2 separate regions of the Homo sapiens genome follow, and region 1 is linked to region 2. A link means that fine-mapping ties the variant in region 2 to the plasma level of a protein whose gene starts in the linked region. Region 2 holds a variant in brackets. A gene starts in the other region. All regions are shown on their reverse strands.

Region 1 (8,849 bases), not on the chromosome of region 2:
TAGATATATATAAGCATAGATAGATAGATAGATAGATAGATAGATAGATAGATAGATAGATAGATGCTTCCTAGCTTGGCCATGAAATTTCTAGTACAATTTGAGATTAACTTGAATCTTTTTACTTTTGAGAATGGCTATTCTCAGTTTATTAAAGCTTGATCTAGGGTTTTCAAATTGTGCCCTTGTGAAATAAAGAAAATCCCCAGGGACCACAAATGCTTGCTTTCTTTATATTTTTCTTTGAAGAAAGGAGCTGAGTTTAAGAAGGCTAGAGGAAGTCCAGTTAGATTTGATATTGACCAAACAGGAGACTGCCCAGATGCTATTGATCCCCTGCACTTGGCAGCACAAATGCCCTTGGGTGTGCATTACTTCAAGCAAACGGAAGTGTGCCCCGCTGACAGTGGGAATGCCTGGCTGGGGGTGGGGGGGCCCGAGTGCACCACATCCAGCTGGGAGTGAAATTCCTGGAGAAAGCACCCACAGCACTCTGAGCCTGCTTGCAGCCCAACGGCCTCGCTGAGAATGCTACATTTAAAAGTGCAGTTTTTGGATGATTCCCAGAAGATTTTTGTGGTTGATGTAAGTGGAAATCACATTGCTATTATTCCTTTATTATTCATTCAATAATTGTCATTTGTGAACAGCCCATTAGAGAGCAATGTTATGTCTTCTTTAGGACTGAATGAAGGAGGACTGTGATTTTTAGCTTTGGAAAAATAATCTGTATTTAACATCACAATGTAGTTCATATTTTTCCATTAACCTTTCTCTTAGAACAAGTTGTCTTTTCTCAAGGGACAACAATAGCAAATTTTAAAGACAGGATAACTATTTGCAAAAAGTAAAGCAGCAATAAACTAGTTCTTTTACCCAATAAGGTATTGTTGTTCATTGAAATTATGTCTGTGGGTCTCACCCCATGAGCATTTGTGGGGAGAAAACTGTTGTTCTGAGGGAAAGGAGTGGGGGAAGCTATCCTCCTTTTCTGAAGAAAACCTATGGGTTATAAGGGGTAGAATTATGTAGTTGTAATGAGAACTTCAGGAAGGAATGACAAGTATGAGAGAGAAAAATAGGATAAGAGACTATTTAGTTTGATTTAGTACTTATAGTTCAGAGTTCTTAATAAATTCCTAGCTACAAGATGATTGCATACAATTATACCTCATCTCTTCAAGAAAGAACAAATGTATTAAGCACATCATTTGGTGCTCATGTTCCAACATCTTAAGATATGTACATTTTGATGTCAGGATTTATGTATGAGCATTTTGAAAAGTTCTACATTTTTATTGGAACCAAAAATGCTATTTGCTCTGATATTTACATTAGCCACTAACAAGAGACAAATAGTTTATTTTCTCTGAAATTCATACAAAATGTTGGTTTTTTTCTTTTATACATAAACTGACAACTGCTGTGGCTCAGCCATGATGTTGTGTGTGTGGGTAGCCCATTTTTCCAATGAGTATTTTATTTTTATTTGAATCATGTGCTTTGTGAGTGATGACTTCATGTCTTCATCTGCTGTTTTGCTGTCTCTTCCTTTCAGTTTTATGCGCAAAAGGCATTTCTAGTTCCACGGACCTGAATGATTTGTTTTTGTAGCAAATAGCTTCCATTAGAGGTATGAGGCATTTCCTATTCTTTCTTGGAACTATATTTAAGGGGTGGAAAATATCTTTTGAGTAGTTTATCCATTTGCAGACTGGTGGTGTATGCTCACAGTGCTGCAGTACCTGAATTAGTGAGCTGGGTATTCAAAAGATATTGCTTTAGGCTAAGTTTTTAATAGATATTTCAAGGAACTCAAAGAGAAATCTTTGACAAAAAGTGACAGAAGAGTTTGTTGAATGTGCAGTCTAATTCAGATCCATTTAAATGGGGTGGAGGGTGGGTAAGGAACACAGTACCATATCTTCACAAAATTCACCTACGGAAGAGCCACTTCCAGCAACTAGAAGACTTGATTTGGCTTCAAGTCAAACTGTCTCTTTCCAGCTGCAACACATTGTGTTCCTTGGAAAGATAATGGGAGAGATTTGATACCCAGCAATTCAGGTGTCAAAGCATGTGATCCCTTTTGCTCTGTGGAAGAATGCTTTGTAAGTAGCAACCATGGTGTTACCCAGAGAGGCAATAGCATTGGCTGCAGTACTGTGAGTGGCTTTGTCCAGAGGAGTTAGAAGCTTAAGTTAGCATTCAATCATCCAATAGTACCTTCTCTGCTTAACAATAATAGATTGATGATGATGATGATGATGATGATAGTGATGATGATGATAATGGTGGTGATGATGATGATAGCAGTAGTGAGTCATCTGTGGATAGCACTTTAAAATTTACAAAGCACTTTCACATCCATTAGTTCATTTGATCTTCCATTCAGCCTTGTGAGTGAAGGTAGGGAAAAGATCTTTTCCCATTTTGTAAGTTAAAAGATGGAGGCTCAGGGAACTTAAGTGACGTGTGCACAATCACACAGCATATAATTGCAGAGCTGGACTTCCAATCCAGAACTCTCCCCTCTCCTTCATATACAATTGTAAACAGTAGACTCATCTGTCAGTAGCCTTCAGTATTGCCGATGCACATTATTTATTTTCTGATGACCTCACAAGGCATAGAACTTGGCACACAGTGAGCTTTTGATGACTATTGTGAACCAGTTAGTAGACCCTTCTTTTCTTAATCATGGTTGAAGAATTATGTGGGACAGTGTTCCCTCAAGGTCAGGGAGACAATGGTGTGAATCTTTTCACCTATTCAAACACTTAAAAAAGCAACCTAAAGAATGCTCTATTTTATTAGTACTAACATTCCAAATTTGATGAAGAAATGCTTGGAACCATAATGAAGAGAACCCATTGATAGCTGAGGAAGGCCACATGGAGGACCTTTTGATACTAAACTGAAATCTCAAGAGGCATGGATCATAACCAGGGAAAATTGTCCTTCAAGATAAGATTCAAGAAAATAATTGGTTGCATAAGGGAACATAGTGGACTCTTGGGTATTGGTGTTGATTTTATAGAAAGTGCAGTGGTAGAAATATAAAAAGGACACATGATCAGATAAAATAATGTCACCTGGAGAAAGCTCATTGACATCCAGAACCCTTTCTCCACCCCCAGTACTATTATCTTCCTGAATTTGCCAGTGTCCAAGGTCTAACTCAGGCCTCCTGACTAAGAAGCCTGTTTTGTCACTACTCCACAAGAACTGGAGTCAGAGACTGACATTTAAAATTAGAATGCTAGTGTCACCATTTACAGTGGGATTGGGGACACTGGGGTCCTCTCATCATTTATATGCCAAATGATGTCAGAAGAGCCAGATCTGGAAGAATTAGATATATGATCCTAATATTCGATGGCTTGGTAATGCATCTGTGTCCACAGAGGCCATGGCATTGAGACCTTTTAGTCACGTATTCATTAATTAACTCATTTAGTTAACAAATTATTATTGAGGACCTAATATGTCCCAGGCCCAGTTCTGGGAACAGTAGACTCTGCTATATTGGTAGGTAAAGTTCGTGAGCAAGAGCACACTCTGGCCTGGACATACTGCCTGGATGCTACCAATTTTGGCCTTGGTTATTCCTTTTTCTGTCATTGCATGATTGACAACTCCGCTTTCTGATCATCCTACTGTTTTTAACTTGTTAATACTTTCAGTTAGTTTATTAGAAAGAGTGGCTGCTCCCAAATACATCTTGTTTTCCTGAGGTTTCTTTGCATATTTGTGCTCTGAGTCACTTGGTGTTGATTTTATAGATAAATTCTCTGAAAATATTAGTCAACCTTTTCTTTCATGAACTTCCAATAGTGTTTAGGGGTGCAGGATAGGTTATGGGACTTCACAATTGCTAGAATGTGCCTACTAAAGTACAATCCAATGAAGAAAATGAATTTAGTGAAAATGTCATCTTACTTTTCAAGCCCTCATATTTATTTCATAAACTGATCATTGTCAAATATTAGCATTATTCTTAGGGCTGATCTTACAACGGACAGCTTATCTTTAGACTGTCAAGGAAGGCTCTCTAGAATGATGATGGGAGTGGGTGAGTGAGACTAAAAATTGAATAAGGTCATGATTTACAAATTAATTGCAGGTTTTATTGTATATTTGGTTTTGCTTCTTCAACATGGAGACTAGAACTTTTCTTGAAGGAAAAAAGGAAGATAAGACCAAAGTTAAAGCTTTGTGAGATATTAGAAACAATAGAGGGTCAAGTTTCTAGCTTGACTATCAATCTCTTCAATATACACACATGCACATGCATGTGTGCACACACTCTCACACACAGTAGTAGTGATGAGTGCCTTTGGAGAGCAACCTCTTGTTTGCTCATCTCAGGTTACATAGAGAGTTGTACAAAATGGTCATCCCATCACCGTATTTGACACAGTTCTATCTGATATCCCTTTTTGCCTGCTGCATTTCTGTCTTTGTAAAAGCTGTTATTTCTGAATTTCCAAAATGATGTTTCACTTTGATGGTTTCTGGAGACTAAAGTCAAAACGAGATGTTAAAACATCTCTACTTTCACATTTACCTGATTGCTAAGTGATTGTACTGGCCATGCAGTGGGTACCCAGTAACAGAATATAGTAAGTTAGCTCACCTGATTCCCTTGGGAGCCCATGATAAAGGCCACTAGGCCTCATTTTTGGAAAGAGACAGAGAGGCAGTGCCAGGACCGAACACTGTTCAAGTTAAGTAGGAAAGCAAAGCACAGTGATTTTTAAATTTATTAGTGGTGGAATTTACCCTTGGGATGTTTGCCCAGGGGTTGGTTTTTAAATTTGCGATGATGAAGGATCTTTTGTAGTTTAGTCAACAGTGAAATAGATAACTGATTCTGTCACTTCATAAGGCAAAGTTCTTCCAACTTCAATGATATGAAATTGCTTTGGTGTAATAGAAGGTACCTGGATTTGGGACTACAAAAACTACCAAAAAACCCACCACTTTAGCTATGTAATCTTGGACTAATCACTTATCCCCTTAGCTTGCTGAGTTGTTGCGAGGAGTAATACAAATTAGGTAATGTATATTTGGAGTCTGATAAACCAGGATAGATTTGACTCTGCCACTGACAAGCTGTGGAGCCGTGGGTAAGTCACTTAGGCTATTTGAGCCTTAGTTCTGTCAACTGTAAATCCTAGACTTGGGGTGCCAGGAAAAACTTCCAGAAGAACAAACCATTTAAGTTGCTGAGTAGGAGTTAAGAAGGTGAAGATCGAGAGGTAGATTGTGGGGGAAGTATGGTGATCTACACAAAGGGAAGAACGAAGGCCAATATTCAAGAGAACATGGTCCTTTCACAGAACAAAAGGGTCAATCTAAGTGAAGAATGGAGTATTGAAAGGAAAATGGCAGTGACTGGAGGTCAAAGTTGAAGAAGAGGTTGGCAGCTAGACCTTTCAGGCAATGTATTCTATATGTGAAGAAGTGTGAGAAGTGTGGTCTTTATCCTGAAGGTGGCAGAGACCACTGAAGGGTTTAAAAGTGGGGACATTAGCCTCTGCTCATCATGCATTAATTTATGCATTTATTCATTCAGACTATATTTAATAAAAATATGTTCTAAGTGCTAGAGATGCCAGGTAGAATCTGAATGTTACCATCAAGTTTAGTGGATCCAATTTTAGAGGGTCAAACTATATCCAAACACATATGCCCAAACATCGATATTGCAGCCTACTAGGGTTCTGAACTTCGTCAATGGTGAAGACAGACAGGAAGGATGAATAAAAGACATGCTAATGAGGTAGAATTTCTAGAACCATTTGATGCCACACTTTTGGATATGGGAGATATGTGAGAAAGGATCTAAATGACCTTCAAGTTTCTAGCTTAAGTGGCTGGTGGGATGATGGCCCCATTCACCAAGATAGAGAACAGAATAGAAGGAGCAAGTTTAGAAGGGATAATGATTGGTTTTGTTTGAGATTTATAGATGGGATTATGGAAGGAAAAATACATCTGGAGTAGGGCAGACCTGAATTCTAGACCAAACCCCAACAATTTGAAGGTGTGAGACTTCAGGTGGGTCACTTCAGCTCTCTGAGGATGTGCCCTTATCACTAAAGTGGAGATGATCCTAGCATCTACCTCATGAGATCATTGTCATGATAAATGAGATATCAGGGATAAGGTTCCTGACACAAAGCGGGTGCTCAAATTTGTTAATTCCCCTCTCCCTGGCTTACAGACCTCCTTATTTCTGTACTTTGCAAACCAACAAAGAACAGTCTTTCACTTTCAACTGGACTTTCTTTTGATGATGCTTGATTTTGCAACCCACCTCCAGGTAATAGAGCTGTGCTCCCCCATTTCTGCGCTTCCTGTAGGGTTAATTTACCCTGCCTTTTTGCATGCTTTGGCCTCTGTTTACTCAGCAGCCCCAAGAGATTTGCTCTTCCCTTTGGAGTCATTAATCCTGGAAGGGTCCATAAGAACTCCCTAGAGTTACCTAAAATAATGTAGGGCTTCCTTTAAGGAAGCAGATGGAAATAGCCAAACCCTTTGCATTTTACTACATTCTAAATTGTTCCATGGTCATTATTCACAGTTAGGGTAATACAGTTAATAATAATAACAATAATATTACTGAATAATAATCACAAATAGCATTTATCAACAATTTTCTAGATGTATTTCCCATGCACTACCTTACATAAGTCTCATGCACATCAAATAAGTGTCACTGACTAGGGTTTTTATATAACTTCTCTGTGCCTTGGGTTTTTTTTTTTAATCTATAAAATGGGGATAATATTAGTACCTGCTCCATAGGGTCCTAACAAAGGTTAAATGAATTAATATATGTAAAACACTCAGACTAGTACTAGAAAGTGCTATATAAGTGTTTGCTACACTCATGCCTCATGGAATTCACTCCAATTTTAGATGGTGAACACATGTCCTGCTTCTTATGTCCAAGCAGTAATACTCCAAGCTGACTAGGCCTAAAATATTATGTTTATCTCTATTTTATGAGTATGTGAACTGAGGCACAGAGAGGTTGACTTACCCAAAGTCATATGGCTATTTAAGTTAACAGGTGAGCTGGGATTCAAGCCCCACTTTGTCTGGCTTCAAAATCCTGTCTGGACATTGATTAGATGGTAGGCTTCTGACTCAAGCGTGATTTCTGTATATGCAGTGAAACTTCCTGGTTTTCCAGAACTTTATGATGTATCCTCTAGCAGATACATCACAAGCAGCCTGCCTAAACAGCCTGCCCCATGCTAGGTGGGATCAATCGATGTTTGTTGATAGACTGACCAACAGACTGAGCAGATCAGCTCACCACCACCCCGTGCCTGTACAAAGAAAGCCAAGTGAAGGAGCTTCTAAACCCAGGTCAGAAAGATCATCCTGGAATCATAACGTTCCAATCTAGCCAATGTTGGCTGTCCCTTTGCCAGGGATTCATTTGTCATTGCAGGGGACCCATACTGCTTGGTGAATGCCTTTGTTTAAACTGAACTTCCTCTGTCGTTCATATCCTGAGGTTTGTTGCTTTGGAGAATAAATTGAACTGAAAAAAAGTGCTTGTGCTTTCTCTGGCCCCAGGCCAGGCTGAGCAGTGGGTCAAGCATGGTTTGGGTGCTGCCTGCCCCACCCTCTGGGAGCCCCACATCTCCTGCTGTCACATGGCTTCCAGGCTGCTTTCCTGCTCCAGTTCAGAGCAAAGGCAGGGCCTCCAGCCTTCCCACTCCCACTCCTACCTGCCCCTTGGCTTCCCATCCCCACAGCTGAAAGGAGGAGGGAACCCGAACGCAAAAACATTTGAGGCCATGGCGGAAGAGATTGGGGAACTGGCTTTGGAGCTATAGGTGGGTGGCGTTTGGCTGTTTGTTCAAGTCTGCACTCGTGGGAATCTCTGTGGAAAATTTCAGTTAGTCGGGGCCTTGCCGCCTCTTCACCTTTCATCGCAGGGCAGGCCTGCCTGCTGCCTGGTGCTGGGGAGGAGTAGCAGAAGTTGGTTCACTGCCCTGCAGCCAGAACGATCTGCAGATCTTCCCTCCGAATTAGACTCGCCAGAGATGATTCCTCTGAATTCTATAGGAGTTTCTCTCTCCCGCTTTTAAATACCCTGCATTTGCATCATTGTTTTGACCTGTCACAAACACAAATGTATTACTCTAATAAAGGCTTAACTTTAATTTGTGCCTTAGGACAATGAAGCTGTCAGTTGCAACTTGGAGAAATTCTTCAAACTGACTGAGCTGAGTCCAAATTGTCTTGGGGTCAAAAGGGCATGGCCTGAGGGGGAAAATCATCTGGGAGGCGGCTGGACTGGCCCAGTCATTTCCTAAAAGAGCCTGGAGACTGCCAGCCCAGCAGCAGGGAGCAGTGCCTAGCTTTTGTGATACTAGGTGCCTCTTAGCAGCTTTGTGCCAGACTGTCAGAACTGGAAAAACATTCCGTGAGACCAGTTCTACTGCTGAGAGAACCACCCTTAACAGTTCATTTACACCCCAGGAGGTAGTGCCGAGCTGGCCAATGAGGTGCTAGGGCAAGGCACCACTGAGAAGACCTGCTGAAGGCTACAAAGCTCAGGAAGAATGAAAGGTGATAGGCGTTCCGAGGAACATTTTTCTGGGGGCTGCGGAACTCTCTGATGTATATAGCTTGCCTGGTTCTAAACACAGCTGCTGTGCAAAAGCTACAATTATTACCCCCACATCATCTAATTTCAGCCCCTTTTTCTGTATTCCTTCTCAGCCTCTTTACCCACTTCCTCCTCTTCTGGGTCCAAGGTGTGGGGCCAGAAAGGGGAGGTTTGGCTGGGTGAGCTGACCCCAGGCCCTGGAAGCACT
Region 2 (8,859 bases):
ACTGATTTTGCTCCTGGGGATAAAAAATATTAACAGTTAGTAATATTCTTTCCATTTAGATCTACAGAGTTGGATTCCAACTGGTCATGGTTTCAGTTGCGATGCATGCAAGTCGGAGGAAACGCTAGTGCAGTAAGTTCATCTCAAACTCGTCATTTTCCTTCTTGTTTAAATATTTGTTATGCTATAATAGTAAAGAAGCTCAGGCTAGGTGCAGTGGCTCATGCCTGTAATCTCAGCCATTTGGGAGGCTGAAATTACAGGCGTTTGGGAGGATCACTGGAGCCCAGGAGTTCAAGACCACCCTGGGCAACATGGCAAGACCCTCTGTTTATAAAAAACAAACAAGTCAGGTGTGGTGTCTCACGCCTGTAATCCCAACACTTTGGGAGGCTGAGGCGGGCGGATCACTTGAGGTCAAGAGTTCGAGACCAGCCTGGCCAACATGGTGGAACCCCATCTCTACTAAAAAAAAAATAATAATAACAAAAATTAGCTGGGTATGGTGGTGCACACCTGTAATCCCAGCTACTCGGGAGGCTGAGGCGGGAGAGTTGCATGAACCTGGGAGGCAGAGGTTGCAGTGAGCCGAGATCACACCACTGCACTCCAGCCTGGGTGACAGAGCGAGACTCCATCCCAAAAAAACAAACAAACAAACAAAAAGAGTTCAATACTTGAAAGTTTGGGAGGCCCTATGAGAAGAAGCAGAGAGCCTGATGGGTTTTGGAGTTGGACAGACCCAGTTGACTTGTTTATTCAAAAATCTGTTAAACACCTAATAAACAGGAAGCGTTGGCTAGCTGCTGGGGATATAGTGACAGACAAGACAAACAAGATCCCCAGCTGGGCACGGTGGCTCATGCTTGTAATCCTAGAACTTTGGGAGGCTGAGGCAGGCAGATCGCCTTGAGCCCATGAATGTAAGACTGACCTGGACAACATGACAAAACTCCGTTTCTGCAAAAAATGCAAAAATTAGCAAATCATGGTGGTGCATACCTGTAGTCCCAGCTACTCGGGAGGCTGAGGTGGGAGGATCTCTTGAGCCTGGGAGGTAGAGGTTGCAGTGAGCTGAGATCGCACCATTGTGCTCCAGCCTGGTTGATAGAGTGAGATCAGTGATAGATAGAGTGAGTTGATAGATTATCAAAATAATAAATTAAAATAACCAATATCCCCTCTTATAGGGGATATTTTATTATAAATAAAAATAATCAAGATCCCCTCTTATAGACAGGGGCAGTCAGAGAGTAATCAAAGAAATATGTTCACAGGAAAATAACAGGCAGTGATAAGTGCTTTAAGAAAATTAAAACAGGAAGTGAGGGTACAGAGAAACTGGAGGCTTCTTTATGATAATAGTTTTTTAATAACTGGGGTGACTTTTGTGGTTAGGATGGAATGCTTGTATTTAAATTAATATTTAACTTCTTAAATCTACAAATTAAAAAACCCATTCTTTTTTTTTTTTTTTTGAGACAGAGTTTGGCTCTGTTGCCCAGGCTGGAGTGCAGTGGCGCCATCTCAGCTCACTGCAACCTCCACCTCCCGGGTTCAAGAGATTCTCCTGCCTCAGCCTCCTGAGTAGCTGGGACTACAGGTGCACGTCACCATGCCTGGATTTTTTGGTATTTTTAGTAGAGACGAGGTTTCACCATGTTGGCCGAGCTGGTCTCAAACTCCTGACCTCAAGTGATCTGCCTGCCTTGGCCTCTCAAAGTGCTGGAATTACAGGCATGAGCCACAGCACCCGACCAAAAAACCCATTCTTCATGTCTTTAAATATAGCAAATATTGTGTGTTAATTTCTAAACACAAACATAAATACTGTGTGTTAAGTTCTGTGAAAAAATAACCTTAAAATATTCAATTAATTTATAATTTTAAAGAACTGATTTCCTTAACCCCATTTACAAACCTAAGTAAGGATTTTCTTTTTTTTTTTTTTTCTTTTTTTTTTTTTGAGACGGAATCTTGCTCTGTCACCCAGGCTGGAGTGCAGTGGCCCAATCTCAGCTCTCTGCAACCTCTGCCTCCCAGGTTCATGCCATTCTTCTGCCTCAGCCTCCCGAGTAGCTGGGACTACAGGCGCCCGCCACCACACCCAGCTAATTTTTTGTATTTTTAGTAGAGACGGGGTTTCACCATGTTAGCTAGGATGGTCTCGATCACCTGACCTTGTGATCCGCCCGCCTCAGCCTCCCAGAGTGCTGGGATTACAGGCATGAGCCACCGCGCCCGGCCTAATTAAGGATTTTCAAACATTTTAAACTTTATTTACAAATTCAGTATATTTGATTATCTCAAACACTGAACTGGCAGCCTTACAAATCTAGCCAGCCAAATCTTGCACAGCACTGGTAACCTATTTATCAGGCCAAAATGGTGTAGATGGAGTAAATGGAATTCCTTTAGGCGTTTCTTATATGCTAAAGTATAAGAAATCAAATTTGTATGCATTTCAAATAAAAATTATGGCCAGGCATGGTGGCTCGTGCCTGGAATCCCAACACTTCGGGAGGCTGAGGCGAGAGGATCACTTGAGTCCAGGAGTGTAAGACCAGCCTGGGCAACATAGTGAGACCTCATCGTACAAAAGACTTAAAAATTAGCAAGGCATAGTGGAACCTGCCTATAGCCTCAGCTACTCAGGAGGCTGAGGTGGGAGGATCACTTGAGCCCAGGAGTTCAAGGCTGCACTGAGCTGTGATCATGCCATTACACTCCAGCCTGGGTGACAGAGCAAGACCCTGTCTCAGAAAAAAAAAAAAGAAAAAAAAAATATATATATATATATGTGTGTGTGTATATATATATCAATTAAATAGTTAAAGTCAGAGGTCTAAAATAGCAGTTTCCAAAATGCTAGTTTCTCAATCTTTTTTCTTCGTTGTCCCTAAGCATAAAAATCAATTAATTAGATAATTTTCCATTTAAATTGGATCCAATGTTTCCCTAATGAGATAAATTAAATACTAAGGAATACAATTTTGTCAGGTAGAGGTGACCTTTGGAAGGCCATAAACCATTGTAATAACTAAGATTTTTTTTTCACTTTTCAAGAAACAATTTTTGCCCCTCTTAATTAAAAATATATGCCTGGCCAGGCATGGTTGCTCCTACCTGTAATCCCAGAACTTTGGGAGGCCGAGGCAGGAGGACCACTTGAGCCCATGAGTTCAAGACCAGCCTGGACAACAAAGTCTACAAAAAAAAAATTTTAAATTAGCCAGGCATAGTGGTGCATGCCTGTAGTCCTAGCCACTTGGGAGTCTGAGGCAGAAGAATCACTTGAATCCAGGGGGTTGGCGCTACAGTGAGCAGTGTTCACCGTGCCACTGCACTCCAGCCTGGGTAATCAAGCAAGACCGTCTCAAAAAAAAAAAAAAAAAAAAAAGAAGTATGCCTTAGATGTTTCAAGGCTTTTTTTTGGTTTTTTTTTTTTTTTTTTTGAGATAGAGTCTCACTCCTATTGCCTAGGCTGGAGTGCAGTGGCAAAATCATAGCTCACTGCAGCCTCAACTTCCTGGGCTCAGGTGATTCTCTCACTCAGCCTCCCAAGTAGCTGGGACTACAGGCAAGTACCACCACGCACAACAAGTTTTTTACATTTTTAGTAGAGACAGGGTTTTGCCATGTTGCCAGGCTGGTCTCGAACTCCTAGGCTCAAGTGATCTGCCTACCTCTGCCACCCAAAATGCTGGGATTGCAGGCATGAGCCACCGGGCCCAGCCAGTGTTTCTTATTAATTTTTTATTGATTTTCTGTTTTTTTGTAGAGGCGTGGTCTCACTTTGGTTCCCAGGTTGGTCTCGAATTCCTGGCCTCAAGCAATCCTCCTGCTTTGGCTTCCCAAAGTGCTAGGATTACAGGCATGAGCCACTGTGCCCAGCCTCA[A/G]GCATCTTTTTAGAAACCTTTGCCCATTATCATGATGTTCACAAACTTGTTCCTAAACTTAGCACTGTTGGTTTGACTTACCTGTTCTTATTTCTAAGCCTTCCCAAGGTTGCAGAGTCACCCTCCAAACTCCAGAAAGGAGCTTTCTCATCTCAAGCCATCAGGGGTTGGGGGACATGGGGAGGGAAGGCTCAGATGAGTGGTCATTCGGTTTAGCCAGTGGAGCTGTGAGTTCTGTGCTTGGAACCATCCTTTTTGTATTTGAATCCTAACTCTGTCCCTTGCTACCCATGTGACTTGGGGCATGTTGTTGAACCTCTCTGTGCTTCATTTTCCCCATCTGTAAAGTGTAGACAGCAGTAGTGACTGTCTGATAGTGTTGCTATGAGGGTTGAATGAGATGATGCCCATGAAGCACTCACAACAGGATCCGGAACATGTGGGTGACCAATATCATTATCAGTTAAATTAGGTTCATCAAAGGATCACTCGTATAGGTTTTTAGAAGACCTGTTTTAATTAAGATATGAATTCTATAATTCATGTCTATACATGGATCCTCATGAAGTGGGTAAAAGCAGTTTCTTTTAATTGTTTAAATACTTGTTTTATCATCTTACCTATATTGTAGTATCTGTTAATGATAAAATAGTGCTAAACAAGGTAAACATTAATGTAGCTCCTCACTAATTTGTCAAAAATTCTGATTTACTGGAATCCATTTTGAGATTGATTGTGGACGAAGTGTAGTGGTTCACACTTCTAATCCCAGCACTTTGGGAAGCCACGGTGAGAGGATTGCTTGAATCCAGGAGTTGGAGGCTGCAGTGAGCCATGATCATGCCACACTACCCTCCAGCCTAGGTGACAGAGTCAGACCATCTCAAAAAACAAAGAAAAGGGCCAGGAGCGGTGGCTCACGCCTGTAATCCAGCACTTTGTGAGGCCAAGGCAAGTGGATTCCTTGAGCTCAGGAGTTCAAGACTAGCAACATAACAAGACCCCATCTCTACAAAAAATACAAAAATTAGCCAGGCGTGGTGGCACACACCTGTAGTCCCAGCTATTTGGGAGGCTGAGGTGGTGGGATCACTTGAGCCCAGGAGGTGGAGTTTGCAGTGAACCGAGATGGAGCCACTGCATTGCAGCCTGGGTAATAGAGCAAGACTCTCTCAAAAAAAAAAAAAAAAAAAAAAGAAAGAAATGGATTGCTCGTGAATTAAAAGTAGTCCTGAGTAGAAAGCTTTTCCCCAAATAAAGTTCACAATGACAGAGATGGTTTAATGGACAAATGAGGACTAGTTATTTCATTTTGTAATGCAAGTCTCATAGCTAGTTTTTGTTGTTGTTGTTGTTTTGAGATGGAGTCTTGCTCTGTTGCCCAGGCTGGAGTGCAGTGACACGATCTCAGCTCACTGCAAGCTCCGCCTCCCAGGTTCGCCATTCTCCTGCCTCAGCCTCCCAAGTAGCTGGGATTACAGGCGCCCGCCACCACGCCTGGCTAATTTTTTGTATTTTTAGTAAAGGCAAGGTTTCACCGTGTTAGCCAGGATGGTACTGATCTCCCGACCTCGTGATCTGCCTGCCTCGGCCTCCCAGAGTGCTGGGATTACAGGCATGAGCCACTGCGCCTGGCCATACGTAGTTTTACGAAAATATTAATGTGCATGCTTTTCTCTGTAGTCTTCCTTTTTTCATCAACATGGGTGTTCCACCAATGACACCAATGCCAAGTACAACAGTCGTGCTGCTCAGCTCTATAGGGAGAAAATCAAATCGCTCGCCTCTCAAGCAACACGGAAGCATGGCACTGATGTAAGTCACTGGAGGCTGGATTGTTTCCTTTAGATACATGTTCACTTCATAGAAAAAGTGATTTTTATCCTGAATAGTAAAACTTTTCTACCTGAGTTGTCTTACAAGGAATTAGTGTACAGTAGATTCTTACTATTGAAGTAGTTATGTTCTGTAAATTCATCATGAGTACTGGATTAGTGAATACTAAAACATTGCTCCTAGGAGAAATACAGGATTAGGTTCCTATAAGCTCTGGTCTCATTTTCATCAACTGATCAATACATAACCTTATTTAACATGTGTTTCTATTTAAAGACACCTTTTTAAATATATATTGATGGCTCATGAATATTGAACTCACAGCCAAGGACTATAACTCAGCCCTGAATGAAGCTTATTTAATGCCTGAATTTTCTCCATGAGGCACATCACAGCCTTCATGTGCTTCAGAACATTAGATAGCCCTTCAGTACTGCACTTGAGAGGCATCTTAAAAAATGACATCCTCAATAAAAAGCATGGGAATATGAAGAACATAGCACAAAATAAACTGCAGAAAGGACATTTGTTATGAGAACTGAAACAAGAAGGCAGAGTAGTGTGTCTTGTTCTACCTCAGCTGAGAATGTGCTTCTTGGGCAACTCATTTTTTGCTGCACTATTCTCCAAATGACTGAAAACACCACGAGGACTAATTTTGGGTTAAACGTAAATTTTAGCAAGTAGGTAGATTCATAAATATGGAATCCATGAATAACAAGGATTGATTATCATTTGGAACCTGCATTTAGATATGAAGTCTTTGATCTTTCCTTTTCAGAAATGGTTTATGTGTTTGAGGTCCTTGACTTCCTCAAGGTTTGGAAGCAAAATTTACTGGATGATAGATTACTAAAGTGCACGCAGAGGTCCTCTGTAGGGATGTTACTGATTTTATAAGAATGGAAAGCACCAATCTTTAGGAAACAGGTCTCTAAGGGAAGTGAAAGGTATCAAATAAAATCCTTTACAGGCCGGATGAAATGCTCAGCCCTGTGTTGTTTTTTTGTTCTAGCTGTGGCTTGATAGTTGTGTGGTTCCACCTTTGTCCCCTCCACCAAAGGAGGAAGATTTTTTTGCCTCTCACGTTTCTCCTGAGGTATGTATTATGCTTCACATCATTTTAAAGTGTGCTTACTCTGACAGTTAACAAAAGGTGCATATTTAAAATGTTAGGATGTAGGCTAAGCTCTTGTAACAAGAAGTGCTGAAACATAACTACTGAAGAGAGAAATGACATTATCAACAATTCCAAGGTTAGGATATCTGCTATTGACTGATGGACTTACTTTGCTGTTCTCAACATGTGGCTTCCATCTCAGGGTCTAAAGCAGCTGCTCCAGTTTAAGACTCTCCCAGATTAAGAGAAAAAGACAAGCATCCTTGAGAGCTAATGCCCTATTCTTCTATTTATTTATTTTTGGGGGGACTGAATCTGGCTCTGTTTCCCAGGCTGGAGTGCAGTGGCACGATCTCAGCTCATTACAACCTCTGCCCCCTGGGTTCAAGTGATTCTCCAGCCTCAGCCTCCCGAGTAGCTGGGACTACAGGTGCGCACCAACACACCCAGCTAATATTTTTTTTGAGATGGAGTTTCGCTCTTGTCACCTAGGGTGGAGTGCAATGGTGTGATCTTGGCTCACTGCAATCTCCGCCTCCTGGGTTCAAGCGATTCTCTTGCCTCAGCCTCCCGAGTAGCTGGGACAACAGGTGCACGCCACCACACCTGGCTAATTTTTGTATTTGTAGTAGAGACGAGGTTTCACCATATTGGCTAGGCTGGTCTCGAACTCCTGACCTCAGGTGATACCCCCGCCTTGGCCACCCAAAGTTCTGGGATTATAGGTGTGAGCCACCATACCCCACCACAGATGCCCTATTCTTTTACAGAAAAAGTCTGGAGGGAGCTCCCATCCCTTCTACTTATGTCCTATGAGCTGGAATTTAGTTGCATGTCTTATCTAGCTGCTAGGGAGAACTGAGAATTTATTACTAGTAGTGTGCCACAGTTCAGTTCAGAGCTCTGAAACTGACTAAAAATGAAAACATTTTTAATAGGGGTTTCATTCTCAGTGCCCCAGTTTTGCTGTTTATGTAGTATTATCTCAAAGCTATTGGATGAGTTAATGCAGGTAAAAGTACTTAGTACCTGGCACAAAGTAAGCCTTCAGTAAGTGCTCTAAATATCACTATCTTCATCTTTGTGACCTGATAGCAACAGTGACAGCAATCCATAGTACTTCTGTGGCCTCTCCTCAGATCACTTAGATCTAGGGAAAGTAAAGCCTAAAAGGCGACAATATTTACTATTTGGCCCTTTCTTTTCTTTCTTCCTTTCTTTTTTTTTTTTTTTAAAGACGGAGTTTTCCCTCTTGTTTCCCAGGCTGTAGCGCAATGGCGCGATCTCGGCTCACTGCAACATCCACCTCCCGGGTTCAAGCGATTCTCCTGCCTCAGCCTCCCAACTAGCTGGGATTATAGGCATGTGCCACCACACCTGGCTAATTTTGTATTTTTAGTGGAGACGGGGTTTCGCCATGTTGGTCAGGCTTGTCTCAAACTCCTGACCTCAGGTGATCCACCTGCTTCGGCCTCCTAAAGTGCTGGGATTATAGGCATGAGCCACCACACCGGGCCTACTATTTAGCCCTTTAAGGTAACGTGTGCCTACCTCTGTCTTGGACCATCATATGTTCTGCCAGCTACTCTAGCTCCTCCCAGTCCCACTGGGTAAGGAGCACGATTTGTTGAACTCTTGCTCAATCTATTCTTTAATTTTCTTTTTTTCTTTCGTTTTTTTTTTTTTTGAGATGGAGTCTTACTCTTCTGTCACCCACGTTGGAGTGCACTGGCACAATCTTGGCTCACTGCAGCCTCTGCCTCCCAGGTTCAGGTGATTCTCCTGCCTCAGCCTCCCAAGTAGTTGGGATTACAGGCCCACACCACCACGCCTGGCTAATTTTTTTTGTAATTTTAGTAGAGACAGGGTTTCACCATATTGGCCAGTCTGGTCTCGAACTCCTGACCTCAGGTGATCTGCCTGCCGCAGCCTCCCAAAATGCTGGGATTACAGATGTGAGCCACTGTGCCCAGCTTATTCCTTAATTTTCAATTTAAAACTATG

Which allele goes with the higher level. Alleles are on the strand shown, and positions count from the first base shown. The strength of an association depends on the size of the effect and on how common the allele is.
As copies of G replace A in region 2, the plasma level of the protein whose gene starts at base 353 in region 1 goes down (moderate association).

Evidence for each region. PIP is the chance, under the fine-mapping model, that this variant and not a neighbour inherited with it causes the effect. Protein levels are from antibody-based Olink assays in UK Biobank. Linkage for the fine-mapping came from a reference panel and not from the study's own genotypes, which makes the PIPs less certain.
Region 1: it holds the start of FRMD7, and the variant in region 2 is fine-mapped to the plasma level of the FRMD7 protein (UK Biobank, PIP 0.98).

The regions. Positions count from the first base shown.
Region 1 is chrX:132,119,524-132,128,372 of GRCh38, reverse strand. FRMD7 (FERM domain containing 7) reads left to right here and starts at 353. Exons shown (of 12, transcript NM_194277.3): 1 at 353-585. The coding sequence starts at 529. RefSeq lists an enhancer at 8,259-8,849.
Region 2 is chr22:42,832,217-42,841,075 of GRCh38, reverse strand. It overlaps ARFGAP3 (ARF GTPase activating protein 3), which reads left to right. Exons shown (of 16, transcript NM_014570.5): 3 at 60-132; 4 at 5,583-5,714; 5 at 6,751-6,834. Among named protein-coding and RNA genes, the nearest start is that of ARFGAP3, 21 kb to the left of the region's middle. The variant A/G (reference allele first, on the strand shown) is at 3,900.